4 linked regions of the Homo sapiens genome follow. Each later gene encodes a partner of the first gene's protein in a complex. Links are inferred from orthologs where the notes say so. Each region holds a gene or a part of one and is shown in the gene's direction. Other genes may lie near its edges. The genes, in order: MYO6, TOM1, CLTA and GIPC2.

Region 1 (7,261 bases):
TGGAGTTTTGGATAACCTTTCTATACTGTGATGTTTATATATTTTAATGAGTTAATTTTAGGTGAAATTGTAATTCTAACTTTGCATGTGAAATCAAGTTCATATACAATAAAGCTTGCCTATATAAAAAAAAGGAGTTGGTGACATAGATGCAGTTGAAGCTGTCAAAGCGGATGTCAGCCAGGGAAGGTGTAGAGACCCTCACACGCCTGTGTTATCTATTCCCACAAAAAAGGAGAAATGAAACCACAAAATTTTGCATATGATTTCAGGGGGATTTGTGGAGTTCCTATCTATGATAAAGGATCCGTGGATCTCAGTTAGAAATTTCTGGGATGGCACAAGAAGATCCAGGGAAGGGTCTTACAAATATTCAATGAGTGACAGCAAAGCTGAAAAACTTAGTCATGTGCCAAATAGTGACACTTGATCAATAACATGGCATATACAGTGGTCCCATAGATTACAATACCATATTTTTACTGTATTTTTTCTGTTTAGATACACAAATACTTCCCATTGTTACAGTTTTCTACAGTATTCACTACAGTAATAAGCTGTACATGTTTGTAGTCCAGGAGCAACAGGCTATACCATATAGCCCAGAGAGTAAGTTATACTATCTAGGTTTGTGTAAGTACATTCTACGATGTTCACACAAAGACAAACTCATCCAATGATGAATTTCTCGGAATGTATCCCTATGGTTATGTGATGCATGACTGTAGAGATACGGAATAACTTGTTGAGTTTTTGCAACAAATAAGATGAGTTGTATCCACCATGCTTAACTACAGCACAAGCAATTTTTCTTTTTTGAGACAGGGTCTCTCTCTGTCACCCAGGCTGGAGTGCAGTGGTGCGATCATGGTTCCCTGCAGCCTCAACCCCCCAACCCAGGCTCAAAGAATCCTCCCACCTCAGCCTCCTGAGTAGCTAGGAATACAAGCCCAGCCAATTTTCTGTATTTTTTGTAGCGATGGGGTTTCACCATGCTCAAACTCTGGACTCAAGCGATCAGCCCACCTTGGCATCCCAAAGTGCTGGGATTACAGGCATAAGCCACTGTGCCCTGCCAGTGCATGCAGTTTCTTACAAGTGTCAACTCTCTTGCCAGTTGTTCATCCATCTGTCCCATTTATTCAATAGTAATACTAATGGTAGGCACTGCTTAATGAATGACTACCATGTGAAAGCCACTCTGCCTGGCATTAGGGACACAAAGATTAAGTCCCTCACTATGACCTCAAGGAGTTTTACAGTCCAGTTGGAGGATACTTATAAGTAAACTTAAGTAGCAATAGTGAAATGTGTGTTTGAAGAGATATCTGCAATGGGTGTTAAGTGAGAAATGGGAAAGAGCACCAAAAAGCACCTAGGATTTGCATCAAGGGGGTTTAGGGAAAACGTCTTGGAGGGAACAAATAGGCTTTGTTCTGAAGGATTAATTGGATTTAGCTTGGCAATGTTCCAATGTAATAAATAGCATAGCCGTCTGTTCTGGGACACAAAAGTACTGCAGAATGACCTGAATATAAAGGACAAGAAATAGAGAAAGGCAGTGGGTAGAAATGAGATTGGAGAGGTAAGCAGGGCTAGGACACTGGATGCAAGTCATTCCAAAGACAGGCAGGTAACATTGTGCGAGGAAGTCTGGTTTAAAACAGACAGCTTTGTGAGTTTTGGACCGCAATGAATTGGGGACCTCATAACCAATGAAAACAAATTCAAATTTAATTAGAAGAAAAAAACATGGTCAGGCACAGTGGCTCACACCTGTAATCCCAGTGCTTTGGGAGGCCAAGGCAGGAGGATCGCTTGGGTCCAGGAGTTCATAATCAGCCTGGGCAATATAGAAGACCCCTGTCTCTATAAAAAAAAAAAAAAAAAAAACTGCCTGGCATGGTGGCATGTGCCTACAGTCCTAGCTACTCAGGAGGCTGAGGTGGGAATATTCATTGAGCCTAGGAGGTTGAGGTTATAGTGAACTATGATTGCACCACTGCACCCCAGCCTGGGCAATAGAGCAAGACTCTGTCTCAAAAAGAAAAGGGCTGGGCGTGGTGGCTCACGTCTGTAATCCCAGCACTTTGGGAGGCCGAGGCAGGCAGATCACTTTAGGTCAGGAGTTCGAGACCAGCCGGGCCAACATGGCAAAAACTAATCTCTACTAAAAATATAAAAATCAGCCAGGCGTGGTAGTGCACACCTATAGTCCCAGTTACTTGGGACGCTGAGGCAGGAGAATCGCTTGAACCCAGGAAGCAGAGGTTGCAGCGAGCCGAGATCACACCAGTGCACTCCACCCTGGGAGACAGAGGGAGACTCTTTCTCAAAAAAAAAAAAAAAAAAAAAAAAGAGGAAAAAAGGAAATCCCCATTATGTTAGGCAAACAAAAACAGCCAGTTTGTGACTGGTGGCTAAATCAAGAAGGATCTTACAAGACATTTTAAGTGGTTTGGACTTTATATCAAGAGTCAGAGAGTGCCATTACAGAAATTTAAATAGTGGAGTACATAAAAGACAAACTGATGACGTTGTAAAGACTGGATTAGAAGGGGATAAAACTGCGGCCTGGGAAACTGGTTAGGTGACTTAGGCAGTATGCAAGATTTGAAATGATAGTGGCCTGAAACAAGATAGTGGTAGTGGGTATAAAGAGGAATTTGATACATTAGAGAGATATTATAGAGCCAGAAGCAAAAGCACTCAGTAATGGATTGGAAGTGTGGGGCAAAGGAGAGAAAACAATCACGAAAGTCATTAGCTACAAAAAAATCTTTAAAATGTATTGATTTATCTAGGTGTGGTGACTCACACTTGTAATCCCAGCACTTTGGGAGGCCAAGGGAGGGGGGCGGGCAGGGATTGCTTGAGGCCAAGAGTTCAAGACCAGCCTGGGCAACATAGCAAGCCCCTGTGTTTACCAACAACAAAAAAATTAAGAAAATTAAAAAAATGTATTGACTTCTATTGGTTTGCCAAATGAAGTTTAGTATTAAATCCAAAATTGAGTCAGAGCAGTGTGAACTGAGACAGCCATCTTCATCTTCTCCCTCTTTTTTTCAGTTTGTTTTGAAATTTAGTTTTATATACTTAAGACTTACCTTCTGGCAATTTGGAATTAAATTTCTGAGATTGCTGTAAATTATTTCCTTTCTTTGTTTCTCTTCCTCTTTCTTACTTCCCTATTTTACTCTTAATATTTTATTGTTTTAGTTGAATTCTAAAACATCTTATCAGAACTTAGAGTTTTTATTTCTCCACCCACAGAACCATGGAGTCTTTAAGTATCAGAAATTTGTCTCCTCGTCAGAATCTTCTAGATTTCCAGAAGTTTCCAAGTCGCTACATATAAATGTTGCAGAAAAACGTGTAATTCTCATGTGCAAGTAGGCTTTTTTCAGCGGATACATTTAGCATTATAGTCAATTGTTATTTCGTTGCCTTAAAAGAAGCTGTTTTCATTGTAAAGGTGATGTGTTTTTACCATATAATTCAAATTTGCATAGGTACTTCATATTTTAAAAGGTGACTCACAGGTATGTCACTAATAAAAACAGTAACATTTAAACGACTGAGAAGGTAGGGGCTCTAAATAAAGTAAATGCGTCGGCGAGGGTAGGAGCGGGAAGAGGCAAAGGGGTGCGAAATTCCCATCCCAAGCCCCCTCCTCCAAAGACCGAATGGCAACTTAGTTGTGCGGGAAGGTTCCCCCCTATGCAGGGCAGCCCAGTCCAAGCCGGCCCGATCCGGGGCCGAGTGAGCAGTGGTTCTTGCCGCAACCGCCACGCAGCCTCGCTGCCGCCCAAGCGCGGACACCTGGTTCCTGGGTCCCCCGCGCGGAGCCCCGGACTCCTCGCCCCTTCTCCGAACAACTTTCTCCCTGCTTGAACTGATTCTCGCTGTTGGTAGACTGCACAGTCACAGTATCCAGCCGGACAGGACCTGCTTTGCCGGGACTGGAAACAACTACCGCGGCAAAAGAGGCCGTTTCGCCATGGGAAGAACAAGAACTCCCGGCTTGTCCAGGGGCAGCCCCTCTCTGCGCTGCAGGGCGCCTACCCTCGCCCCAGAGGCTCTGCGCCGCGGGCGGGGCGACCCCGGGGGTCGCGCGCCCTCTCCCGGAGCGCGCCCTCCCTCCCGGAGCGCGCGCCCGACGGCCTGCCGCGGCCCCGGCGCCCCCGCCCCTTCGGGCGCTCCGTAGCCGTGACGTGCACGCCGCAGTGCCGGGGACTCGGCGGGGCGCCGGCCGGCGGGCGGAGACCGACTCGGGATCTGTCCGAGCAGGAAGCCAGCCTCAGCCCGGCCGCTGTCGCCGCCCTGTCCTGGTGCCCGTCCGCGTCGTCGCCCTCTTCACTGGCCCTCATCACTTCTCACCGCGCCCTCCAGCTTCACCCGTACAGGTAGCCCCGCCGCCGCGCACCTGCCTTCGCTCCCGCACCGGTGAGTGTCCCAGAGACCCACTGCGGGGCGTCGGCGCCGGGGTCTCGCGTTCCCTGGCCCGGCCTTGCTCCCGGGCCTCCTCGAGCAGCTCCGGGGCCGACGCTTCTGTTCACTGCCCGAGGACGCGGGTGGGAGAAGCAGGTGATGGATGGGTGGGCCCTGGGCAGCAGTGGGGCCGGCGGTGGTTCTCGTTTCCACCGAAAGACAATCAGTCTCCTTTCATGGGTTCTCATCACCAAGGTCCCTTTGTGTTTCTTCCCTGGCTCCCAGGTAGAAGCAGAGCACTCAGGTGCCTAACTCGGACTTGGACACTCCGTGATAGTTTTATTTTCTCTTTTGTAAACACGCTTAAAATTCAGTGCAGGGGGAGCGCAGTTTGCTCTGAGATGTGAAGATCAAATGATACCATTAATAGTCTAATCATGTAGGAGACCAGATCGAGACTTTCTAAAGCCTTATTCTTAGTCTCCAGGTGGTCCAGTACCTTGAGTATGTTAATTTACGGATATGCTACTGAACAAGAACTTTTTTTGTTAATTTCCAAAAACTCCCTAAAACGATTAAAATGCTTAAACTCTGGGATTTTAATTTTAAGTAGGACACAATTTGATGGGGTTATTGCTAGAACATCCGTGTTTAAAAGTATTTCCATACAGTTTAAAAAATTCATTACCTTTTTTTTTTTTTTTTGAGACGGAGCCTTGGTCTGTCGCCCAGGCTGGAGTGCGGTGGTGCGATTTCCTCTCACTGCACCCTCCCCCTCGCGGGTTCAAGCAATTCTCTGCCACAGCCTCCCGAGTAGCTGGGATTACAAGCGCCCACCACCACGCCTGGCTAATTTTTTTGTATTTTTAGTAGAGACGGGGTTTCACCATCTTGGCCAGGCAGGTCTTGAAATCCTGACCTCTTGATCCATCCGCCTCGGTCTCCCAAAGTGCTGGGATTACAGGCGTGAGCCACTGCGCCTGGCCAAATATTCTTTACATCTTACCTGGCATAAAGTGATGTGGTGGAGGGATGCTTAAATCCTGATTTACAAGTATTAGTGAGAAATGAGGAGCACTGCCCTAACTTAATAGACTTAACTGTACGGGCTAAATAAGCCTCATTTTTTTTTTTTTTTTAATGCTCTGGTGGTATAGATGCAGTCTATCTAAATAAAGTCAGAACTTGAGAGTTTTAAAAATTAACTTTTTTTTTTTTGAGACAGAGCCTCGCTCTGTCAGCTCACTGCAACCTCCACCTCCCAGGTTCGAACGATTGACCTCCCTCAGCCGCCCGAGTGGCTGGGACTACAGTAAGGGCGCGCCACTGCCCAGCTAATTTTTGTATTTTTAGCAGAGACGGGGATTCGCCATGTTGGCCAGGCTGGTCTCGAACTCCTGACCTCAGGTGATCCACTCGCCTCGGCCTCCCAAAGTGCTAGGATTACAGGCTTGAGCCCCCGCGCCTGGCCTGAAAATTAACATTCTTAAGATTTAGCTGAAACTTATCTTCACACCATAAAACGTGAATCTTGAACTTGGACTGGTAGTGGTCATGGTACAAAGGTTGGCGGCAAAACAGCATTTCTGTACAAATTAACTGAACTTCCTAGATGTCTTGGGTTGTGGTTTTCAAACTGGAGAATGTTTAGTGAAAAAATTACCTTTGTGCCTTTTTTCCTTAATTGTAGAAACCGCCACAAATGTTACAAAGTGGGCTATAGCCAGAGCTTGAAACCATGCTGCCGTTCAAAATAGCTCACAGACTTTTATATATACAGCTCATTTTGAGTATTTTACGTTACGCAGGAATTGCATCCACTTTGGTAAACAGAAGTCATTTTAGTCTTATGTACATTTGCCCATTATTTTTGTATTTTTTGTGTGACATGCTGTTTATCATTCTCTCATCTTTGTAAGTTACATTTTTGTTTTCAGAAACCATTGTAAATGTAACAGAAGTATGAATGACATTTAAGGAAAGATCATGATTAAAAACTGTATAATATATAAAACTATATATGATATACATATATATTCTTGGTTAGTGCCTAGAAACATGAGCAAGAAAAATGTTATGAACAATTACAATATTTAATGTAAATTAATGCAATTAAATATTGCATTAAAAACAAAAGATCGTAAATCATAACCAGTAGGGATTATCTGAAATGGATTTTTCCCTGTTTATGTTTACGTGGTCAAGTTTTAAAATAACAGTGGCCAGGAAATCTGAGAGAGGCTGAAGGCTCTGTTCTCATCCTGTTGTGACTTTGCCTGGAGTCTGTGGTGTATCATGTAGCCCATTGTTTAGACAACTGGGCTGTATCTGGGTTCCAAAATGTAGCTTTCTTTAGAAAGTTTTAAAGACTTTGACCATGTGAGGCTTGAACAAATGCAAACATCCAAACATTGAAAAAAACCCATTTTAACTTTCTGTTGATAGTTGAGACTCCATTTTTGACATGTAAAATACCAGTTTTAAGAAGAGTTTACTAACCTCTGTGTAGTTTCATTTTTATATATTAAAATATCTAAAAATATTGGGAAGTGTTATAACTTAAATAAATCTCAGAGTTTATTTATTCTTTTTTTTTTTTTTCTCTGAGATGGAGTCTTGCCCTGTCATCCAGGCTGTGCAGTGGCACGATCTTGGGTCACTGCAACCTCCGTCTCCTGGGTTCAAGTGATTCTCCTGCCTCAGCCTCCTGAGTAGCTGAGATTACAGGTGCCCGCCACCACACCTGGCCAATTTTTTATTATTATTAGAGATGGGGTTTCACCATGTTGGCCAGGCTGGTCTCAAACTCCTGAGCTCAAGTGATTTGCCT
Region 2 (8,049 bases), on another chromosome or scaffold:
TGTTGTCACAGGGCTATGTTGCTTAAAGGTAGTCTGGCTGCTGAATCCCTTTCTCAGCTCAGAGCAGTTTTAAGATTTAATTGGGAATACAGAGAAACAGGATTGTTTGAGAACCAAAATCAAGAGGAACAGAAATCTTAACTTGATTTCATGTGTTAGAACATTGTACCATGCCTCTTCTGTATCTGTGGAAGTTTCCTGTTTGACACAGGGTATCTAGGAGGGGCGGGGAAGACATGGATAGTATAGGAAGACATTAATCCTAGCATTGTCATTTATATACATTAATGAAATCCTGATGAGGACCTGCTTTTTGTTTGTTTTCCTTTGAAACCCAGCCCTATTGTATTTGTATTTAAAATTTGTACACATTTGTATAATAATCTGTACCTTGTGGTATTTGGTACTATTAGAGGAAAAACTTTGGATTCAGACCTTCTTGCAGTTTTTATATCATTGTTTTATTTTGTTTTTTAAATAAATTCTAGTGGTTTGATCCAAATCCCATTACAGTTGTATAAAGAAATAAAATTTTGTACTTATATTATTAAAAATCACATTTTTAATATTTGTAGTCCAGTCTCAGCTGTCTTTTCCCTAATCATGATCATCATAGTTGCTATGAAATTATAAAACCTGTTTTTCACTCTATTCTACCATAATTTTCTTAAGAAAAAAATCAACCCACAATGGAGATTAAATTTCTAATCTTAGCCATTTTCTTAATATACTCCTTACTCTGCTTCTATTAACTTTTACATTGTAGAGGTTCTCATTTTCTCTTTTGCAAATTGCAAATTTAGTGAATCTGATAATTCCACCTCCATTTATTGGCAAATGAAACTATGTGCATTATGGTGTTGGCCTAAATCAAGAAAATGTTGATTAATCTTATATAAGGGTTGCATCTGAATCATGTGCTAAATGATATGTTTCAGTACTGTCCTGTTAGCATTACAGTAATGCTGTTGATAAGTTACTTAATCTTTATAGGCTTCCAAAGTCCCATCTATAGAATAGTGTTAAAGTCACTTCCCTGTCTGTAGACCTGCAGCCAGCCAGCCTGACATGAATGTTTAATAACATTATGAACACTGAATATATGGAGATATGACCTTTCAAGGTAAAAACTTCAGTGCAAACACAAGGTGTTAAAAGTCATAAATAGTAAAATAATATGATTAATTACAAGGCTAATGTCTTATGGAAAGGCAGCAAGGAAGAGACTACCGTATCACTGAGTGACTATTAGAGTGATTTGCATACTTTGTCTCACTCATCCTCCGCCCAAAGCCTTAAGAATATTATCTCCCTTTATAGATGCGAAAAAGTACTTTTCCTAAGTTTATACTGCTAGTAAATGGCAAAGGCAGATTAAGAACAGTGAAACAGCTGACCCCAAACCCTAGGCTCTTTTCTACCCCAAGCTACTTTCAGATTTAAATCATGTCTATAATTCATCAGAATGCTTTCCATTATCTCAAGTCCTGAGCGAATGTGATTGTGGGAATGCTGTCTCAGATCTTTGCATTGTTCGGGTATCTAGCTGGCTTTCACTCTTGTCATACTATTGTCTTTAAATTTTGAAGGCAAGGTATCTTGATTTTTGTCTGTAAGCACTTAAAGGATTTAATAGATTACATTTATGCAGACTGTCAATCTTAAGAAATTTGAACATTTTAACCCTCAGTAAGGCATGATATTAATTTTACTAAAACACTTAAAAAGTAAATTGAAACACTTTTTACTAAATCAGTTTGCTCCTTATTAGCACACTTTTTAAAGACAGTTTTAATCAGTTTTGTACTAACTTTAATGTTTGCCATTTACATCCCTATCTACTATGTTGATAAAATCCATATACTGGCCAGGTGCAGTGGCTCGTGTCTGTAATCCCAGCACTTTGGGAGACTAAGTCAGGAGGATCATTTGTGGCCAGGTGTTTGAGACCAGCCTGGAGAATATAGCAAAACCCCATCTCTACAAAAACTAAAAGATATTAGCCAGGTATGGTGGCATGCATCTGCAGTCCCACCTACTCAAGAGGCTGAAGTGGGAAGACACTTGAGCCCAGGAGATCAGGGCTACGGTGAGCTACAGTTGTACCACTGTACGCCAGCCTGGGTGACAGAGACTCTGTCTTTAAAAATAAATAAATAAATAAATCCATATACTTCCATTTCTGTTTCAATAGCTATATAGTAATCAGTTTGCATGGAGTTGTTTTTCTTTTTTTTTTTGAGACGGAGTCTCGCTCTGTCTCCCAGGCTGGAGTGCAGTGGTGCAATCTCTGCTCACTGCAAGCTCCGCCTACCAGGTTCACGCCATTCTCCTGCCTCAGCCTCCCGAGTAGCTGGGACTACAGGCGCCCACCACGGCGCCCACCACCACGCCCAGCTAATTTTTTCTATTTTTTTAGTAGAGATGGGGTTTCACCGTGTTAGCCAGGATGGTCTTGATCTCCTGACTTCGTGATCTGCCTGCCTGGGTCTCCCAAAGTGCTGTGATTACAGGTGTGAGCCACCGTGCCCAGCCTGCATGGAGTTTATGATTCCACTTCCTGTTTGGGGGCATATGAGTTGTCTCTGTTTTTGTTTTTTTTTGTTTTTTTTTTTTTTTTTTTTTACCATGAATAAAGTTTACAAGAACTTGTTAAAAGCTTAAAGGAAGGGCCAGAGATGGTGGCTCATGCCTGTAACCCAGGGCTTTGGGAGGCTGAGGTGGGAGGATCACTTGAGCTCAGAAGTTCAAGGACCAGCCTGGGCAACATAGTGAGACTTTGCCTCTAAAAATAAATAAATAAAGGTTAATGGAAGAATCCAAAAGAAGTTCATGCTAAACATAACTCCATATGACCAAGCAATAAGGTTAAGTGAAGAAAGACATGGAAAGTGCCTTGACCTGAAGGTCATCTTAAATGGCCTTCTCCCCGCTTATACTCCAAATACCATTACTGAAACGTAGATCTATTTAAGCTTTCATGTGCTAGTTACTGGGTTAGACAATAGTGGGGAGCAAAACAGAAATAGTAGCCCAGCCCCCAGGGACATCCAGACTCGTGGGGGCAAAGGCATTTGTGAACAGGTCTCATGAGTGTTGTGGAAACACTTCAAAGCAGTTTTTATATTGTACAGTAAAGACATCGGACCCCATGGCTGCTCAAACAAGTGAATCTACAGAGGTGATTAAGTTCTAATTTAGGTTTGTTTTTTTTTTTAAGACACAGCCTTACTCTGTCACCCAGGCTGGAGTGCAGTGGCACGATCTCAGCTCACTGCAATCTCTGCCCCCCTGGGTCCAAGCAATTCTCATGCCTCAGCCTCCCAAGTAGCTGGGACTACAGGCGTGTACCACCACACCTGGCTAATTTTTGTATTTTTAGTAGAGACGGCATTTTACCATGTTGGCTAGGCTTGTTTTGAATGCCTGACCTCAGGTGATCCACCTGCCTCAGCCTCCCAAAATGTTGGGATTACAGGCGTGAGCCACCACACCTTGCTTAATTTAGGTTTTCTGTCATCCAAAATTTGTGCAGTCAATTTACTAGCCTTTCAGATTTAAAAACCACAAACATCACAATAAGTACTTAAGCACCCACAGTAGCCAGACTACTAAGGCCATGGTTATTGTATTTTTGGAGTACATGCCAGAAGAAAAGGTCATAACCCATAGATAGGTATCTAGTGTGTAGGTGTCAGCAGACACACCACACACAGCCAGGAAGGCTGAAGAGATTAGAATCACAACGCTGGGAAAGGCCTTTGAGATTCTTAGCTTGGGGTCCACGGTTGTACTTCAGGGACCCCAGAAACTCCCTGAGGTTATAAGCAAAATTGTATCGCTGCCTTTTTTCTTCAGAAAGGCTCATGGCTTTTGTCAAATTCTCAAAGGAGACTGTGACCTAAATAAAATATTTTTTAAAAATGGTTACGAGTCCTTGATCTAATTCCAGTATCTAGAGAAAATGGGAGCTATGTTTGGCTCACACAGTAAATTTATGGCAGAGACGGGTATTAAAGCCCCACTCGTGACTACATCTGTGCTTTTTGCCATCCTGGGCGCTAGAGGGAATTGCGCTGCAATTCATTAAATTGCCTCTCAGTCTCAACAGATGACAAACCCCTTGCCCTTGCCTCTGATTTAAGGTAAGATAATTTGGGCTGCGAGCAGGGTGCATCTTGGAGCGGGGAGACCTTGACATCAAACAGGAAGAGTCTTACCGGGACAAGGAGACAACAGCCCAGAGAGGCTGTCACCCAGGGTAGGTGTGCAGTCACAGTGAGGTCCCAAGGACTAAGGGCTATGACCCTAAGAGTCTCGGCTTCTGTGTAACTCACCCAAGTCACTTCCCTGGTCTACGACCCAGTTTCCCAAATGTGTAAAGGGTCCTTTAGACCTCGCCCTAAAAGGTCAGGGGCGTGGCTTAAAGAGGACCGCGCTTCCCGGGCCCCGACCCCAGACCCTACATCGTGTGTGACGCCCGCCGCCGCCGAGCAAGCCGCAGTGAGGTCATCGCCCTCCGCCTCGGGGGCGGGACCCTGGCGTCTCAGGGCGGGGCTTGTGGTCGAGCTTCGCGGTGCCACCGCCCCGCCCACGCCTCCTCGCCGGCCTCCGAGTGCGTCACGTGACGGGTCGGTGGCGCTGGCGGTTGCTGTCAGCTGATTCCCGGGGTTGGTGGCAGCGGCGGTAGCAGCAATGGACTTTCTCCTGGGGAACCCGTTCAGCTCTCCAGTGGGACAGCGCATCGGTGAGTCCCTGGAGCCCCCCACAGCTCCGCCCCGGTGCTCCGCACCCAGCTTCGGTCCCCTGGGAAGCCTCCGGGTGCCTAGTCACGGAGGCAGGGAGGGCAAGGAGGCTGGCGTGTAGCTCTCCGACCTGGCTCCGCCCAGCTTTCCTCCCACTCTTGATTGACAAGAACTTGGGCCATTAGGAAGCCTTGGCTTGTGATAGATGTATATGACAGCCAGTAGGTAAGGAGAGAGGGTGGGTCCGGATGCCCACGGCGCAGCCAATGTGCGTCTGCTGGGGTCCCCAATCGAGGGAGAAAGTTTTCGTGGTTAAAGGGACTGCGTGGTTGGCAGTGGCTGGGCCACTCTGCTGGGTCCCGCCGCCTGGGCTCTGGCCAGCTCCTTCCTGGCTCACCGGGCCCTCCGGACACAGACACCTGAGAAGGGCTAGAAGTCCCTTCTCCCAGGACCGCGAAGCCCCGGGCTTGGCGTCTTGGGGCCAACTGGCCAGAGGGGCCCAGCGCCGGACAGCCCGCGGCCAGGCCTCACAGACCCGGGTCTCAGGACGTGTCCGCCTGGGCTCTTTTCTCGACCCAACCTCAAATGGACCCGCACAGACTCTCAGAACCTGAGCAGACAGTGGTCGGACAAACCCTCCTGGTCAGCCCATCTCGGTGCTCCGTAGGTGGGGCAGCCGGGAACTCGGGCCAAGCCAAGCCCAGGGCACCTGGCGCCTGTCTGCTGGTCCGTGGTTCTCTGCACCCTGGTGACAGGATACTCACAGTTCTGTGACGCAGCCTCCCTGGGCCGAGGTTTCCTCACCTGTAGTTGGCGGGCAATAATGGTCCCCACCTCCGTGGGCTTGTTGTGAAGATTAAATTCCTTAATAAATGTGAAATACTTAGAACAATGCCTGGTACATGGCCAGTGCCATATAAAAAAAAACAGTTGTAATATTTATTATCACTGGGCTGGGCACGGTGGCTCCCGCCTGTAATCCCAGCACTTTGGGAGGCCAAGGCGGGCAGATCGCTTGAGCCCAGGAGTTCGAGACCAGCCTGGGCAACATGGCGAGACCCCGTCTCTACAAAAAAAAAAAAAAAAAAAAATACAGAAATTAGCCGGGCGTGGTGGTGCGTGCCTGTGCACCCAGCCACTCGGTAGGCAGAGCTGGGAGGATTTATTGGATCTGGGAGGTCAGGGCTGCAGTGAGCCCTGATGGCGCCACTGTACTCCAGCCTGGACGACGCAGGGAGAGCCCATCTCTTGAAACACATACACATACACACACACACACGCACACATATATATAAAAATATACACATACAAACATACATATACATACACATACATATATATTATATGTATTTACACACACACGTTGTTCCTGAGATCACCAAGTGAAGGTTAGGAATCCCTGGAAATCGCTTGGCAGTAGATCTCATAGGTGCTCATTCTTGGGCACCAACACCATGAGAACCGACATGCCTTCACCCAAACAGCCACACTTCTCCGGAGGATGGTTTGGGTGTTCCGCATTCTTGCATGAAGAAACCATCGCATTACCGTGAAATTACTCTTCATCTTTTTTGATGACGACTTTTCGTCTTAAGTCCAGACTGGGAAAACTTTAAGATGAGACATATTTTCCATTCTTAGTGTCTTGCGAAACCTCACGAAAGCTTGTCGACCCGGCTCTGTGTTGTAATCGCCACCGTGGCTGTCGGTGGCTCTTCCGAGGTTTTGTAATCAATGCTCTCCAAGGGGGAGGTGGCAGTCCAGGATTTACACACCAGGAAGCTCCTGAACCAGGGAGAGGAACTGCCCTCTCAAAGGACCCCTGCCCTCCCCGGACACACACCCACCCCACAGTGAGTCATGGTTTTTTGGAGCTGAAAAGAGAAGGCAGCTCTCCTCTCATCTATATTTCTCTGACTACAGAAACCACTGCTTTTATCACATGCCAAGTTTAAGACTTACTACTTAAAAATAAACAAGTAAATAAAAGACCTGGCTTCAAAGTCAGCCACATACTCTTAAGGCTTTCTGGAAAAGCTCACCTGGGTTCTGGATTTCAGCTAATCAAAGCAAACTTCTCTTCTTACCTTGAAGCGTTGCCTTTCTTGGGCAAGAAATACTTCTGTGCAAAGAGAATGCTACTAAATCATAATACCTTAAAGCACAAATGGAATTTTGCAGGTAAAAGAGCCTTACCTTGGGGATCTTCTAACCCAGTGGTTCTCATCAGAATTCCTAGGAGGGCTTGTTAAATAATGTCGGGGCCCCAACCCCAGAGTTTCTGACTCTCCAGGTCTGCGGTGGGACTCTAGAATGTGAATTTCTTTTTTTTTCTTTTTCTTTTTCTTTTTCTTTTTTTTTTTTTTTTTTTTTTGAGACTGCGTTTCGCTCTTGTTGCCCAGGCTGGGGTGCAATGGCACCATCTTGGCTCACTGCAACTTCCGCCTCCCGGGTTCAAGCGATTCTCCTGCCTCAGCCTCCCAAGGTAGCCGGGATTACAGGCACGCTCCGCCACACCCGACTAATTTTGTATTTTTAATAGAGATGGGGTTTCTCCATGTTGGCCAGGCTGGTCTCAAACCTGAACAGGTGACCCACCCACCTCAGCCTCCCAAAGTACTGGGATTACAGGCATGACCACCGTGTCCGGCCTAGAATGTGAATTTCTGTTGAGTTCCCGGGTAATGCTAATGCTGTTCCAGCCCATCCCCTTCATTTTACACTGGCGGAGACTAAGGTCCAGAGAGGGGAAAGTGGAGGCTGTGACTCATCCAAGACCCCAGTAAATTGACAGCAAAACTGAGTCATTGAAATTTAAACCAAAGCTGAAGAGGCTCCAAAAGTAGAATTAAGAGTTTGAGTTAATCCCCTCAGTATTCCATATTCTTTTAGATAAAGAGGCGGAGGAAGTACTGCTCCCTGGCTGTGATTACTGATGACACAGTATAGCTGCTTATAATTCTGTAAACCAGGCCCCTCCTTGCTGCAGGAGTACCATCTCTTCTCAAGCCTGCCGACTCCCATGCCCTTGTTGATAGTAGAGCTGTAGAGCCATATGGAATTGACATCCCTCAGATGGTGATTCTAATGATGCTAATCAGGAATGAGTGTCAGTCACTGGAATCACAAAGTTCTCATCCACCTCCCCTCCCAACACACACACACACACACCCCTTTGTGCTTGCTGGTCCCTCTGCCTGGGTTGCTTGCTCCTGTGCCCCCACTGAGGAGCTCCAGATCACCCTTCAAAGTACAGGGCATCATCACCTCCTCCCTGAGGCTTGCCCCAAGCCCGACGTTGCTC
Region 3 (7,648 bases), on another chromosome or scaffold:
TCCGCCTCCTGGGTTCAAGTGATTCTCCTGCCTCAGCCTCCCGAGTTAGCTGGGATTACAGGCATGTGCCACCACACCCAGCTAATTTTGTATTTTTAGTAGAGACGGGGTTTCTTTATGTTGGTCAGGCTGGTCTCGAACCCCTGACCTCAGATGATCCACCCTCCTCGGCCTCCCAAAGTGTTGGGATTACAGGTGTGAGCCACGGTGCCCGGCTGCAAAGTTTTCTAATGTCTTCTACATTTAAATTTGCCCTCACTTCTCATTCTATATTAGGCAAAATTCTTTTTTTTTTTTTTTTTTTTTTGAGACAGAGTCTCACACTGTTGCCCAGGCTGGAGTGCAGCAGCGTGATCTCGGCTCACTGCAACCTCCGCCTCCTGGGTTCAAGCGATTCTCCTACCTCAGCCTCCTGAGTAGCTGGAATTACAGGTGCACACTACCATGCCTGGCTAATTTTTGTATTTTTAGTGGAGACGGGGTCTCACAATGTTGTCCAAGCTGGTCTCGAACTCCTGACCTCAAATGGTCCACCCATCTTGGCCTCCCAAAGTGCTGGGATTATAGGCGTGAGCCACTGTGCCTGGCCTGGATTAGGCAGAATTCTTTATGACAGAAACACAACTCAAAATTGTCTTAAGGGGAAAAAAAATAGAATTTATTTGTTCACAGAGCCAAAAAGTACAGAAGTAGATCTTTCACTTCAAGCATGGCTGAATCCAGGTCCTCAATGATACCAACAGGAAGTTGTCTTTCTCACTCTCTGCATTCCTCCATGTTGACCTCATTCTCACTCTCAATCTCTCCTCTTGATGACAAGATGACCACAAGAAGCTCTAAGCTTACACTTTGCCTGCTTGTCAGCTCCAGCAGAAAGAGTTAGCTCTTTCCCTAAGATTCTAGTAACAGTCCTGGAATTGAGCCTCATGAGCCTGGTTTGACTCACTTGTCCATTCCCAATCATTTGGGCAGGGAATGGGATGTTCTAATTGGCCAGGCCTGGGTCACATGGGGGTGGTCCACTCAATCCAAACCACAAAACTGAAAATGAGGAAGAATGGTTCCCCAAAGGAATATTGGAGTGCTGGTATCAGAACAAAGGGAATTGGATGTAGGCAGGCAGAACCAACAGATGTCCACTATGCTTCCATCCCTCAACCTAGTGCAAACTGATTTCCACTCCTGGCATCCACTGACATCTCTCTCACCAAGGTGACCAGGGAACTTGATGGCCAAGAGCATCTGCTCAGCTCTCATTCTTCACCTTTCTGCTAGTCACTCCTTCCTTCTGCAAACTCTGCTTGACTTCCATCACCCAGCTCTAACTGAACCCTCTCCAATCTCTCTGACCCACCCCTCTACCTCCTTCACATATAGCCATCCTCCAAGATTTAGGCCTCAGTCCTTCCCTCTCTAGTCTCCATCTGTGGTCCCACTCTCTCCTATACACACTTCTGTTGGGAGCCGAAAAGGCCAAAGGGATCGTGACCAACTCAGCATTCCACTGGAGGCTATATGATCAAACAGCAAACTGTTTATCATGAATGTAGGATGTGAGCAAACACACTGCACCTGCCACCAAAAGGTTTGCTGATGGACATCACTCCTTGGTGCAGGGCTCCTTGAAGTTATCTAAGAAATCTAGCACCTATTGTTCAAAAGATGCAGTCTCACAAGCCTGCTGTGAACCAAACCTCTAACTGACAATTACCGACAATCACCCCCCCTTTCTCGCTCTCTTTTGCCTACGAAATACGGAGGGATGTGTAAAACTCAGGGCCCTTGTCCACTAGAGGCAAAGTGCCCCCTGACCCCTTCTTCCAAATATACTCTTTTGTCTTGTCTTTTATTCCCATTGCCCACCCACCTTTGTTCAGTCCACCAGGGATCATGGCAGGCTACACACTTCTAGTTCCTGGACATCTTCTAAATCTTCTGTCTCCCAGCAATCACCTGGGCTCCCCCAAAGCCCTCAAACTAATGGTTCTGGCAATTTCACAGATTCATGATTTATGACCCCATCCTTTCCCCTTGCCTTTTTCCCAGCCCGTACCTCTGGTCGGTCACCAAGTTAGTCACTTCCCTACTGGGACCCGCTTTCCCATCAACGCTCCCCACTCAGCTCCATACCTCTGCCCTGCCCAGACCTTCATCATGTCACTCCTGACATCTCTGCCCACAGCCTCTGCCCCATCCATCCTGCAACCAGGGACCCGATTAACCTCCTAAGCAGCAGTTGATCAAAACATTCCTTTATCTGAAACCTTCTATGGTTCCTTATTGCCATTAAGATTCCTTAACATGGAATGCTTTCAGGGCTCCAGAATCTGTCCCCAGATTTTCCTTCAATTATTCATCTTGCTGAGCTCTTCAGACTCCAACTAATTTACTCACTGTCCCCAAAACATGCCAAACATTTTCCCACCTCTGAACTTTTACATGACACTAACATTAGACCCTCATTATTGACTCTTCTAAACGTTCCCCATATTTCAAAACTGAGCTCCAAGCCACCTCTGTGAAATCATCCGTAAACACATCAGCTATTCCTCCAATTTTGAGTGTATACTTGTTTGTTGCTTTTGCATAATATGTAATGCCTCCTCTAGCAAGGGAATCACAGGAGAGTTTCTCCCAAAGTCATGCATTTCCCCAAAAAGAATGCTGTCTGTTCCGGAGCTACTACTGTTGTGAGCAACTAAAAGTTGTCTTCCTTGGGCTCTCTCATAGTAGTCCCTGCCCCTCTTTTCCTCATGAGACTATGTCAAGGCTAATGTGAAAATACTTCATGCACTGTTGCCAATGTATGTTAGGGATGAGCATAAAACAACAGACAAGGGGAAACAGAATCAATTGCAGACCCTAACATTTTAACTTTCTTAAATGTTTTTCTTCAACACTTTCCTATGGTTCATACTTTAAATGACTTTAAAATTATGCTTTAAGTAAATATATGCTTTAAATAATTTTTATTTGCTTCATTTTTCCTTCATAGCTATCCCTTTTTTTTTGTCATCAAAGATATGTGCGTTTTTTATAAAAACACTTTCTTGTCCCCTGCTGACTACCTCTGGAAGCTTCTTGTTGACCTCTGGTTTTTTGGTTTCTTTTTTTGGCTTTTCATTTCTTAGGGTGGTGGTGGTGGTAGTGAAGGAGAGGGGTCTTCTGGTGGCCCCTGCATAAGCACTCCCCCTCAACATGAGCATGATTAACTGGAACCACTGTTATTTCTGTGGTGTAGACAAAATGAGCCATGTAGCTATTAACATCTCCCTGATTTAAAAAGAAACACGGAACTTTCTTTTTCCTGCTGTCCTTAGGGAGGAAAGGTGTAAATATAAGAGACTGTAGCTAGTATCTTGGAAGTCCCCAGGAGACAGGCGTTTCCTCTTGGTCACTGACTCTCTGGGTCACTGACGCTCCTTGAACAGCAGGGCCACCGTGTCTCCCTTTGAAGCAAGTGATCCTTAAGGAATTTTCCAGGTTTAGTAACTTCTGTCTAGCTCCGAAAAGACGTAATGGCTGCAAAAGTGCTTCGTTGAAGAAGATAAGATATATTCATTTTTAAATAAAAATACTTATGGGCGAGAAAAATCGGAGTGGACTGAATCAATTACAGTAAATCTATGGGCTCTAAGGGAGCAAATAATCCAGGCTGGCTGAAAGAATTAAATATTTTAAATTTATAAAGCCAGGGACCCTCAAATCCATAAAAGGATTCAATCTTCTTCTTCTTTTTTTTTAGGATTCAATCTTCTAATAATCCCGGGAGGGGGCGCAAGAGCAGGATTCTTGTTTCTATTTTACGAATGAGGAAACTGAGGTTCAGAAAGCCTAAGTGGCATGCCTCTTCAGTAATCGGCCAATCGTCGCTGCCCTAACTTCACCTCACCTCCCAGTGCAGCACTAGAGTCCCCTCAGGGGTGGCCGTCCCTGGTCAGTCCAGCTCCAGCAGACGGGGTGGGTAGGACGCTCCCTATCAGGCAGCACTTCCGCCTCCCGGGGCCCGCGCAGCTCACCTCCCTCACCTCCCGCCCTACCCCAGTCACGAGTTGTTTTAGGGGGACCGCCCCTCCACTTGCTGATTGGGTAGCTCCTGAACCATTGTTGTCCTCTGATTGGTTGTTCCCTTTTCGGCTCTGCAACACCGCCTAGACCGACCGGATACACGGGTAGGGCTTCCGCTTTACCCGTCTCCCTCCTGGCGCTTGTCCTCCTCTCCCAGTCGGCACCACAGCGGTGGCTGCCGGGCGTGGTGTCGGTGGGTCGGTTGGTTTTTGTCTCACCGTTGGTGTCCGTGCCGTTCAGTTGCCCGCCATGGCTGAGCTGGATCCGTTCGGCGCCCCTGCCGGCGCCCCTGGCGGTCCCGCGCTGGGGAACGGAGTGGCCGGCGCCGGCGAAGAAGACCCGGCTGCGGCCTTCTTGGCGCAGCAAGAGAGCGAGATTGCGGGCATCGAGAACGACGAGGCCTTCGCCATCCTGGACGGCGGCGCCCCCGGGCCCCAGCCGCACGGCGAGCCGCCGGGGGGTCCGGGTGAGAGTGCGGGCGCGTTTGGGGCGAGAGGACTTGTCTGGAAACTCGGTCCACAGTGGGTCCGAGAGCTTCTGTGTGACTCGTGCTCCTTGCTGAATTAGGAGGTTAGGGAGCAGTGCAAACAGGAAACGAGACCCTGGCCCGGTCTTTCAGAAACCTAGGCTCGAGAAGCCTGTTCGGTTCTCAGCATGTTTGAGTGCTTCTGGGCGCGGGCGGAGCGAGAAAGCAAGTGTAGGGTGGCAGGCTCCGGAGCCGGAAGAAGCCCGTTCAATTCAGCAACTTTTCATTAAGCATTTGCTGTGCCTTTAGTCCGGTCTCTGAAGCAACCGCATTGGCGCAGTTTTTCCAGACTTATAAGCTTATAAGTCTGAGCCGAGCACAGAACTCGTTATTAGAAAAGGAGGGCGGAAAAAAATAAGAATGGAAATATCGTTTTTGAGAGATACAAACAAAAGTAGCAATGCAGTTCAGCATTTAAGCACTTAAGGTGTACAGAGTGTTGGATTACGAGGAGGAAGGAGGGAGTAGGGAACTCGAAAGATGATCTAGGTCTGGAGAAAGAACTGCCAAGCGCGGTAGGAGTTTGCTATCGTTGAGCGATTGATTTACAGCTAGGACTTCTGGAGCTCTTCCTCTGGGAACAGCTTTGGTAGGCAATATTGCCTAAGCAGAACCCAAGATTAGCCTAAACCAATCAGGGAGGGATGAAGAGGTGAATAGAGAATGTTCTCAGCCAAACTCAAGTAAAAATGGGGCAGGTAGGATGGCAGTTTGACCTTTGGATGCCTTAACCTGTGTGTGATGCTTAGGATCATGAGTGGAAAAGACCTACTTAATAATACAAAGAAGTAGGAAATTTAGCTAGAAGAAATGAAATACGGCTTTTCATTCACTTAAAAAATTCCAACTAAGGGAGAATAGGGCACTACTGGGGCATATAGGAGTAGTGTCTACCCTAAATTCAAACCTTAAGGAGCCAGGTAGGTAACATATACGAGAGAAGCTGGCTTGACATGAGACAGTAGAAGTGTTGGAGACTGAGGCTTTGCTGCACTATAGTAGTGCTCTGTGTAAAGGCATTCAGATCCAGCAGTCTCAAGTTACTGTGCCAGCCAGGCGGAACCTTTTGATGGATGGGTTGGTGGGTGTGCTGCTAGTTTGCAGCCTCTTGAGTTTTTGACTGCACCATGTTGCTTCCTAAACAAATCAGTCCCCCAATAAGAACTTAGTGGGAACATGTAATATGCCCGAATATGCAACTTTATAGCGGGTAGGTTGGACTAAACTAGGCTGTGATTGTGAGATGAAGTTGGCCTTAAGTGATTAGGGGATATTTTCATTGGGTGGTCTCTAACATTTGTCTGAGAATTTTAAAATTGACTTCTTAGACCCTTAGTTTAACCTTCCTCATTTAATAGAAGAGAAGCAATCCTAGAGAGAAACGACTTGCTTAAAAAAGCACGAGTTAATAGCTGAGCCCCAAGTCTACCCACTCTTAGAATATACCACATTCTGTTGCAGTGTTTAGTTGTTTTAGCAGGGGTGTAGTGCGATAACAGACAGGCAGCTGTGGCTGTCCCAGGTGGAACAGATTTGGGAGAAGCAGAACCCAAGATCTGTAGTTGGAAGATTGTCCTGATTCAAGGACAGTGTTACCCTTACTGTTTTATCTCCACTGCCTAGCAGTGTGTCTGACATGTAGTAGATGCTCACGTTTGACAAAGAAATGGGCAAAAATGTCAGATCCAAGGGTCCTATGTAGAACTGACAGATCTTGGTGACGGGCAGTTAGGGAAGGTAAAAGGGAGAGAATAGAGTTGGATGCTCGGTCCTTTGTGCATCAAGCCTTCGGCAAAGGGAAGGAAAGAAATGGTTGCTGACTTAGTTCCTAGGAGGGACTTTCTTAGTGAACTAAGCATTTGGTGACTTAAAGCCAGATTCCTGACAGTGTAATTGAAGTTGGTAATATGCAGTGGTCAGCATTTCCTTTGGAGTTTAGAGAACTGATTGGACACTTTTTCTCTCTTAGTTTTCTTTTTCCTTCTTTTTTTTTTTTTTTAAAGATATGCTCTAGTGGTTAAGATTCTATGCTATCCTAAACTGCTTGAGTGTGAGTTTAGCTTTGTGATCTCAGACAATGTATATAACTACCACCACTGCCCGGCCTCAGTTTTCTCCTTTGTAAAAGTTGCATAATATAATTTATAATGCTATGTGGCATCTTTAGGATTACATTAAAGAGTGTCTATAAAGTGCTTACAGTTATATTAAGTATCTAGTGAATTCCAGCTACTATTAGTGGGAGAAAGGAGTTACAAGGCCTTTAGGCTTTGAAGTGTACTGAGTAAATTGAGGTTTTAGGCGGGAGCTCTCTTTCTGATGTATTATACAGAGATATATAGGCAGTCAGCTATGACAGATTGATGAGAGGAAAATAAACTGGCCCCAGCCTTGCGGAAAGCGTCTATGGAGGATGGGCACAGGCAAAAACCAGAGGGGTTAGGGCTAAGCCTTGGATGACTCCTTTGGTTGTTAAGAGATCCAGAAAAGAGACGTAGGTTTAGAGGCAGGAAGAAACCAGCTGGGTGAAGTGATATTGAGGTAACCAGCTGTGGGGGATATTGAGGAAGAACAGGTGGTCATGAAGGAGGCAGCACAAGTGGAGCTGTTGAAAAGCTCTCAATCATGAGGGCTGAGTCGGGGAAGAGAACAGGAGAGACAAGCCACAGAGAGAGTACAGCAGTAAGGCACTATTATGGTGTTTTGTTGTTTTTGAGACAGTCGCTCTGTCACCCAGGCTGGAGTGCAGTGGTGCGATCTCGGTTCACTGCAACCTCCGCCTCCTGGGTTCAAGCAGTTATCCTGCCTCAGCCTCCCGAGTAGCTGGGATTACAGGCGCCCACCACCGTGCCCAGCTAACTTTTTGTATTTTTAGTAGAGACGGGGTTTCACCATGTTGGCCAGACTGGTCTGAAACTCCTGACCTCAGGTGAGCCACCCGCCTTGGCCTCCCAAAGTGCTGGAATTACAGGTGTGAACCACCGCACCCGGTGACAAGTTATTTCTTGTAGGAGAAGAAAGAGACATGGGTGAATTAAAGGGAAGCTTTCTGGA
Region 4 (7,345 bases), on another chromosome or scaffold:
AGCTCCTGAGAGCTGATTGTGTACAACATTCCCAACTCTGTTTAGAGGTGTCATGTAGATAGCTGGAACTCAGCCATGGTGAAGTATTTACACAATGAAAATTAGCAAAATCGAGGCTTTTTCATGAATAGCTGGTTAAACGATTACCAGCCCATCACTAGCTGTTAACATAAATAAACAAAGACTCATTGCAGTCCTATAATACATATATATTTTTGACATGGGGTCTCAGGTTGAACTCAAGGTTCTGGACTCAAGGGGATCCTCTGGCCTCAGCCTCTCAGGTAGCTAGGACTACAGATGCCTGTTACCACGCCTGACAGTCCTTAATTTTGTGTGTGTGTGCGTGTGTGTGTCTCACTCTATCACCCAGGCTGGAGTGCAGTGGCATGATCTCAGCTCACTGCAACCTCTGCCTCCCAAGCTCAGGCGATCCTCCCACCTCAGCCTCCTGAATAGCTGGGATTACAGGCATGCACCACCACACCTAGCTGATTTTTTTTTTTTTTTTTTTTGGTATTCTTTTGTAGAGACAGGGTTTCACCACTTTGCCCAGGCTGCTCTCGAACTCCTGGACTCAGGCTATCCTCCCGCCTTGGTCTCCCAAAGTGCTGGGATTACAGGCGTGAGCCACCGTGCTGGGCCTCAGTCCTTAGTCTATATTTGAAAATTTTATTTTATTTTTTATTTTTTTGAGACAGTCTCGCTCCGTTGCCTAGGCTGGAATGCAGTGGTGAGATCTCGGCTCACTGCAACCTCCACCTCCCGTGTTCAAGCGATTCTCATGCCTCATCCTCCAGAGTAGCTGGGACTACAAGCGTGTGCCACCACGCAAGGCTAATTTTTGTATTTTTAGTAGAGACAGGGTTTCGCTATGTTGGCCAGGTCCTGGCCTGCCTCTGCCTCTCAAAGTGCTGGGATTACAGGTGTAAGCCACCACGCCAGGCTTCAGTCCTTAATTTTTAACTGTGTAAAAGAATTCTGAGACCAAAAAGTCTAAGAATCACTTGGTACAGTGATTGCTTATCTATGGAGCGAGAAAGTCTTACTAGGGGAAAAATTAAAAAAAAAAAAAAAAAAAGGGACTTTGGACTTCCAGACACTCGACCCTATCAAATCTTTTGCAGATTCATACTGTTGCCTTCACCAAATGCCACCACTGCCATTCTCCCATGGGGGTCATTGTTGACCCAGTCTTTCCCCCAAAGACCAAGAGGGTCTGGGGTTGAATGATGAGCTTCTTCTTAAATTTGAAGAGCCCAAAGGCTGCTAGGAAGGAAGGGGCTGCAACCTCCCCTAGCAAACACCAAAGATCTATCACCTTACGTCCTATAGCTACTTGTGGACAAAAAATGGAACTTTAAGGTACTGCTAGGAAAAGAATGGCATCAGATCAAGTTTTCCAGATAATGGATTCCAACTCCAGCAAGTGGGATAAGAGGTTCATGACACAAATATATTTGTATTAGGTGAATCAATCACCAGGATACCAAGATCGGTTACTTTCACAAACTGCTCTGAGGCAACTTAAATACGGAAGGAACTTCAGAGCCAGCTCTTCGGCTCCAGGCTCCTTTTTAACTACTTATTGTGGTGTGGAAAATATCAGCTTGCTGAGGATTTATCATCTTAATAGAGAGCTCCTTGGGAAGGAAAAGGGTGAAATTTAAAAAAAGGATCTTCATTAAAGAATAGGGAGTTGATTATGTTGCAGAATCGTATCTTCTTGTTTTGCGACACGTTGGAAACATAAACTTTAGAGCTTTTTCATCTCCACTGCACAGAGGTCTGATTGCTTCTGTTTAAAAATGGGGATCTGCTGATGGATTTCAGCCAGCTTCTTCAGGTCTATGTCTGAATACATGATTGTTTCTTCCTTGAGAGCCCTAGCAGCAAAGGTTCACTACAGTGCTGTGTCCCCAGGCAACATAGGAGGCTTTGTCATCTTGGGCAGGAGAATGTGGCCACATACACCTGATTATCAAGAGCCTGAAGCAATTCCCAGTGGGCTGGTCCAGTGGTCAAACTGAAAGCCCCTGGATAAACCAACAGCTGGCAGCCTTTCCGTGTGTAGATTTGTGCAAGCTCTGCAAACCAGTGTCATAGCAGATGCCCCGACTCATTCTGCAGTAAGGAGTATCAAATGTGGAGAAACTGTTGCCTGGACTCAACATTGTGGATTCTTGAAACGTCATTTTTCCAGGAACACCAGTGTTAAGCAGATGGACCTTTCTGTGCTTTACTAGTAAAGTTCCATGAGGTGCAAACACAGCATAGGTGTTATCTAATTTCCCAGCATCCTCTTCAGGGATGGAACCTCTAGTGAGGTTGTATTCCTTTGCTACTTCAGAAAGCTTCTGTGTGGATTTACCAGGAATTTTCGCTGCATATTCAGGAAAATATTTTGTGCCATATGGAGAATTAAAGCATTCCAACAAAGAAACCATTTTGGCTCCTTGCGTTGCTGTCTCCCGGACAAGGCTACAAGCTCGAGTGTTGTTATCTGATTTGATGAAGAAACTTGAAGCTGGATGAGGGCCAAGTGGAAAGTTGCCCTGGCTCTCCTGGGAAGCAACAGCAGCAGCACTGGCTGAGTGCAGGTGTCCCTGTATTACTTTTCTAAGTCACAGAAACATAAAACAAAAATGTTAAAGTTATCCTAAAGTTTTTTTTTTTTTTTCATCTCGCTCTGTTGCCCAGGCTGGAGTGCAGTGGCACAATCTTGGCTCACTGCAACCTCCGCCTCCCGGGTTCAAGCGATTCTCCTGCCTCAGCCTCCCGAGTAGCTGGAACTACCGGCATGCGCCACCACGCCCGGGTAATTTTTGTATTTTCAGTAGAGACGGGGTTTCACCATGTTGGCCAGGCTAATCTCGAACTCCTGACCTCAGGTGATCCGCCCGCCTCCACCTCCCAAAGTGCTGGGATTACAGGCGTGAGCCACCGCGCCGGCCTCCTAAAGAATTCTTAAGACTCTCCTCCCCCAGTACATCTGCTAACCTTAAGTTGAGAAATATGGATTTTCGGGACTGAATTGATGTGAGAGGTGAGGGAAGAGGAAAAATCCTGATACGACGACTCCACAATGTCTGGTCTGGGAGTGCTTGGTGATCCTATTAACTGAAATCAGGAGTAAAAAAAAGAAAAGATAGATGCAGGAGAAATGATGAGGTCAGTTTTGTTCAGTCTCAATTTGGGTTTCCTACAGTACATTCCCTTTCTGGTAGAATAAGCTGGAGTTGGAGACATTTGGTAGACAACAACGTCTGTGAAACCGAGAATGTTGATGTGACCATACAGGAAGAACATGCAAAGCTAAGTAAGAAGGGAAGTTTGTCGAGGAAAAACTGTCGGTGAATGCAACTCCTGGAGACTAGCAGTTAGCAAGGAGCAGGGTGGGGACGGGGAGAGGAGAGGTAAGGAAGCCAAAAGAGGACAAAATTTAAGAAGAATGAAATGGGCAACGCAGACCAAGTAAGATAAAAACCTAAAAGAATTACTTGTATTTGGTAATTAAGATATGATAGTGATTTCACTCCACTGAAATTGCATAGTAAGTGAAATTTCAGTAGTGTGGGGGCAAAGTCTGATCACAGTGCTTCTAAGAGCAGAGAAGTGAGGAAATTTCGTAGCTAATAATTCAAGACTGTTTTGCTTTGTTGTAAAAAGCGTAGTTGGAGGGGACTGGACTTGAAAACAATGCAATAAACGCGAGGTAGGGAATTGAGGGAACTCACACTTCACACCGAATGGCCTCAATTTTCTTTGTACTATATGAGGCAAGGTCCTCTGTAGAGACTAAGAAGGGCAGAGCTGGGGCAAATGGCTTTGGAGGCGTGCTGAATGTTGGGAGAGGAAGCAGCCCAGGAAATAGGCAAAAGGGAAACTCAGAGGTGCCAAGGACCCGGCTGAGGGGGTTTATGAATACAACGTAGCACCAAGCTCAAGGTTATGTGACTTTCTCTTCCAATTCTGCCCTGCAGAGCGTAAGACGCAGAAAATGCAGACGAAGGTTGACTTCTACTTAAATCCCTATCCCCGAAAGTCCAGACGTACGGACCCGAAGGCCTGTGGCCAAATCATGCGTGGGTGCCTACTACAGATTTATGAAAAGCAGAGAAGGGCCAGCGTGTTTGCCTTCTAAGGCGTATTGTTCTGTAGCGTCGGCATCCTCAGGCGTTCACGTAAATAGAGCCATTTTTTACAAGGAGTAGGGATAAACCTGGTGATAGGATGAGGGACTACGTAACTTTCTTTCTCTCCAGATCCATCCCGGGGGAGGCTGGGCGGGCGGGCGGCTGCTCCGGTCCAGGGGTGGAGGTCGGGGCCCTGACCCGACGCAGCCAGGCGGAAGCGCGGCTGCCATTGGAGGCTGCTTTTACCTGCGCGGGGCCCGGGGCGCAAAGTCCGAGGCGCCGGGGGGAGGAGGCGGCGGACGGCAGCGCAGGTGGGCCCGCGCTCTCGGCCCTGCAAGATGCCCCTGAAGCTGCGGGGGAAGAAGAAGGCCAAGTCCAAGGAGACCGCCGGGCTGGTGGAGGGCGAGCCGACGGGCGCGGGCGGCGGGAGCCTCTCAGCGTCCCGGGCTCCCGCACGCAGGCTGGTCTTCCACGCGCAGCTGGCGCACGGTAGTGCCACGGGCCGAGTGGAGGGCTTCTCCAGCATCCAGGAGCTCTACGCCCAGATCGCGGGCGCGTTTGAAATCTCGCCGTCGGAGGTAAGGCGCCAGGTGCTCAGGCTCTCCCGCCTCTCCGCCGCGCCGCGCCGCGCCGCGCGTATTTCTGTGGGCCCAGGAGGGTTGAGCGGCGTTTCCCGGAGCGCGAAATCCGATGCCGTGTTGAGTCCGCCGGGGGCGTCCCGGGGGAAAGTGAGTGTGCCTTCCCTGGAAGGGAAAATTTAACTTGGCAGGACCGCAGAAAGTCACAGTCCCCCTTGCTCCGAGATCTGGCCTTTGGGAAGCGGGTTGAGGGAGGCAACCTTTCTTCCGCTTGCAAATGTGTTTGCTCCAGATGTCCCGGATTCCGCCGGCCGTTCAAGGCGTGAGCACCTTCCCAGACTCGAGATCTGGCGGGGCAGATTAATACCCTCCACTTCATCTGGACTTTACTCTCCTGTTTCCTCCGCAGGCGTGAGAGTCACGCAGGTCATCTCCCTAGATTAACGGGGGAAAAAAAAAATAGAAGTGCCTTGCAGGTGATACCCAGATTAAGTGGGGGGGAAAACATTGAAGAGCCTTCCAGGTAATACCAAACGGAGGCCCACTTTCCCCCAATCTGTCATTTCTAACATCAGCACCAGAAACCCTTTGGTGGTATTTCCAAGAAGTTTAAAAAGCTGGGCTGTTATTCCAAGAGTGGATAACCTAGAGATTCATACTTAATCACGTGGGACTAGTTAACAAAATTTTCATGAGGAAGATCAGCTCTTTTACATCGTATCCTTAAAAAGGGACTGAAATTTGCTTTAATTAGATTTCATGGGGGCCTGGAACTAAGTTTGACACAGGCATGACCTAAAGCACTAGTTTATGTGAACGTTTATGTGACCACTTTATTTGTGCTAACCCAAGTGAACTGCAAAGGTAGGTGTGAAAAGTTAGCTCAACAAAATATTTTGTCCACATTTCTAGGAAAAGCATATAATTTTGTTGCCCTGGACTCAGAGGAGTGCAGAGAGCTGTCTTTGAGGCCTACAGCGGCACCTGGAGTTCTTTAATTAGTTGTTTATCAGGTCTGTTCAAGGGAAATTGAGGTCAAGGCAAAATTCCAAGAGGAGACGAAAGAGAGCTTAAAGTGTAACCCTTTGTTCTTTCGAAGTTCCCAGGCACTAAGGGGCAAATCGCAAACCCATCTGTGAATTATTTGTATTGATATAGGATACTAATAATACTTCACATTTATATAGGATTTTTTTTTTTTCAAAAAACACTTTCACAGGACACTTTCCTTTGATCTCTAGGGGAGGCAGGTGGCAGGTTAAATACGATAACTTGGACATGGAGCCAGGTTCTACCCTTTACTAGCTGTGTGGACTTGAATGAGTTTAACTTCTCTCAGTTTTCGCCATCTGTAAAATAGAGATTAGAATATTTGTCTTGAAGAGTATTGTGAAGAGTGGAGTCCGTATGTAAACGTATCAGATTGCATAGTTTATGGTTAGGGCTTAATACATGGTAACTAATATGATTAATACCTAACAGTTAAATGAAGGACTGAAGTACAAAGTGATTGGCCCTTAGCCAAGGTCACATACCTAGCAAAAAAAAACTTGACTGTAATTTAAACTTGGATCTTCTGATTCCTAAGCTAGTGAGCTTGTTAGCATACTTAACTGACAACTTTAAATGTCTTTGCTGTAACCAGGGACTTCAGTTTTAGTTACAGATGGTCCTGGGTTTATGATAGTTAGACTTAAGATTTTTGACTTCGCCATGGATTTATTAGGATGTAACTTCCTGGACTTAAGATTTTTCCACTTTATGGGTTTATTGGGGTATTAAATGCATTTTTGACTTATGATATTTTTGACTCACAATGGATTTATTGGGACATAACACCTTGGTAAGTAGAGGAGCATGTGTATTTTGCATTAACACTTCTCATCATTATATATGACATTATTCTGAGCTCAAGGTACATGATTTTATTCAATCTACTTAATCCCTAAGAAGTAAGTATTATTATTAATATCCCCACTTCACAGAGAGGAAACAGACTTTGAGGTTCAGAATTTTTCCAGAATTACACATAGCAAGTGGCAGAGCCTGGATTTGAATTCAGTGTATTCTTTTTTTTTGTTTTCTGTTTTTCTTTTCTTTTTTTTTTAATGAGATGGGGTCTCACTCTGTTGCCCAGGCTGGACTGCAGTGGTGCGATTATAGCTCACTATAGCTTCAAACTCCTAGGCTCAAGCAATCCTCCTGCTTCACCCTCCCAAGTAGCTGGGACTACAGGCATGTGCCACCACATCTGGCTAATTAAAAAAACTTTTTTTTAGAGATGTGGTTTTTCTGTGTTGCTCAGTGTGGTTTGAAACTCCTACTCTCAAGTGATCCTCCTACCTCAGTCTCTTGAATAACACAGACACGGAGCCATTGTGCCCATCTTTTTTTTTTCCTCCCATGAAGCTATATTGTTACCCAAGTTTTCCAGAGTCTCAGCAATAGCTTGGTAGCCACGTTCAACATTTTCAGTGCACTGACTTGCAAGGTCAGTTTCCAAGATAATATACACGAGTTGTTTTCATGTGTTAGATCAAAGTTTATAACATTTTATAACCCGGGTATATGGGTAAAACCCCAGTTTTACCATGTTTATGCATATAACCAACATTAATGCAAGTTTTCCAT

The links.
Region 2: the proteins of MYO6 (region 1) and TOM1 are in contact, whole or in part, in a crystal structure (PDB 6J56), measured with the Homo sapiens proteins. Residues at the interface, in NP_001355794.1 of Homo sapiens: Ile1182, Phe1184, Trp1202, Gln1214, Glu1216, His1218, Asp1220, Lys1221, Pro1222, Ile1224, Leu1226, Glu1234, Met1235, Cys1236, Leu1238, Glu1242, Thr1243, Gly1244, Leu1245, Arg1247; in NP_005479.1 of Homo sapiens: Ser440, Glu441, Phe443, Phe446, Leu447, Arg450, Ala451, Ala453, Ala454, Asp455, Leu457, Pro458, Asn459, Leu460, Ser461.
Region 3: the proteins of MYO6 (region 1) and CLTA are in contact, whole or in part, in an NMR structure (PDB 6E5N), measured with the Homo sapiens proteins. Residues at the interface, in NP_001355794.1 of Homo sapiens: Met1053, Thr1054, Pro1055, Met1058, Ala1059, Met1062, Ser1087, Trp1089, Lys1090, Tyr1091, Glu1113, Arg1117, Leu1118, Val1120, Tyr1121, Trp1124, Asn1128; in NP_009027.1 of Homo sapiens: Glu47, Asn48, Glu50, Ala51, Phe52, Ile54, Leu55, Asp56, Gly57, Gly58, Ala59, Pro60, Gly61.
Region 4: the proteins of MYO6 (region 1) and GIPC2 are in contact, whole or in part, in a crystal structure (PDB 5V6H), measured with the Mus musculus proteins. The link is inferred for Homo sapiens from one-to-one orthologs. Residues at the interface, in NP_001034635.2 of Mus musculus: Ser1055, Lys1056, Trp1057, Lys1058, Tyr1059, Arg1084, Arg1085, Leu1086, Val1088, Tyr1089, Trp1092, Lys1093, Asn1096; in NP_058563.1 of Mus musculus: Glu255, Leu256, Tyr257, Met258, Gly259, Ile260, Asp262, Asp264, Leu265, Thr268, Thr289, Leu290, Asp292, Phe293, Ala294, Pro296.

Annotation. Positions count from the first base shown.
Region 1 is NC_000006.12:75,744,978-75,752,238, forward strand, and holds the start of MYO6 (unconventional myosin-VI), read left to right. Parts: upstream 1-4,261; 5' UTR 4,262-4,446; intron 4,447-7,261. UniProt on the Homo sapiens protein: Myosins are actin-based motor molecules with ATPase activity. Unconventional myosins serve in intracellular movements. Myosin 6 is a reverse-direction motor protein that moves towards the minus-end of actin filaments.
Region 2 is NC_000022.11:35,295,234-35,303,282, forward strand, and holds the start of TOM1 (target of Myb1 membrane trafficking protein), read left to right. Parts: upstream 1-4,660; 5' UTR 4,661-4,695; coding exon 4,696-4,747; intron 4,748-8,049.
Region 3 is NC_000009.12:36,186,740-36,194,387, forward strand, and holds the start of CLTA (clathrin light chain A), read left to right. Parts: upstream 1-4,181; 5' UTR 4,182-4,317; coding exon 4,318-4,534; intron 4,535-7,648. UniProt on the Homo sapiens protein: Clathrin is the major protein of the polyhedral coat of coated pits and vesicles.
Region 4 is NC_000001.11:78,041,621-78,048,965, forward strand, and holds the start of GIPC2 (PDZ domain-containing protein GIPC2), read left to right. Parts: upstream 1-4,345; 5' UTR 4,346-4,474; coding exon 4,475-4,714; coding exon of another isoform or gene 4,715-4,864; intron 4,865-7,345.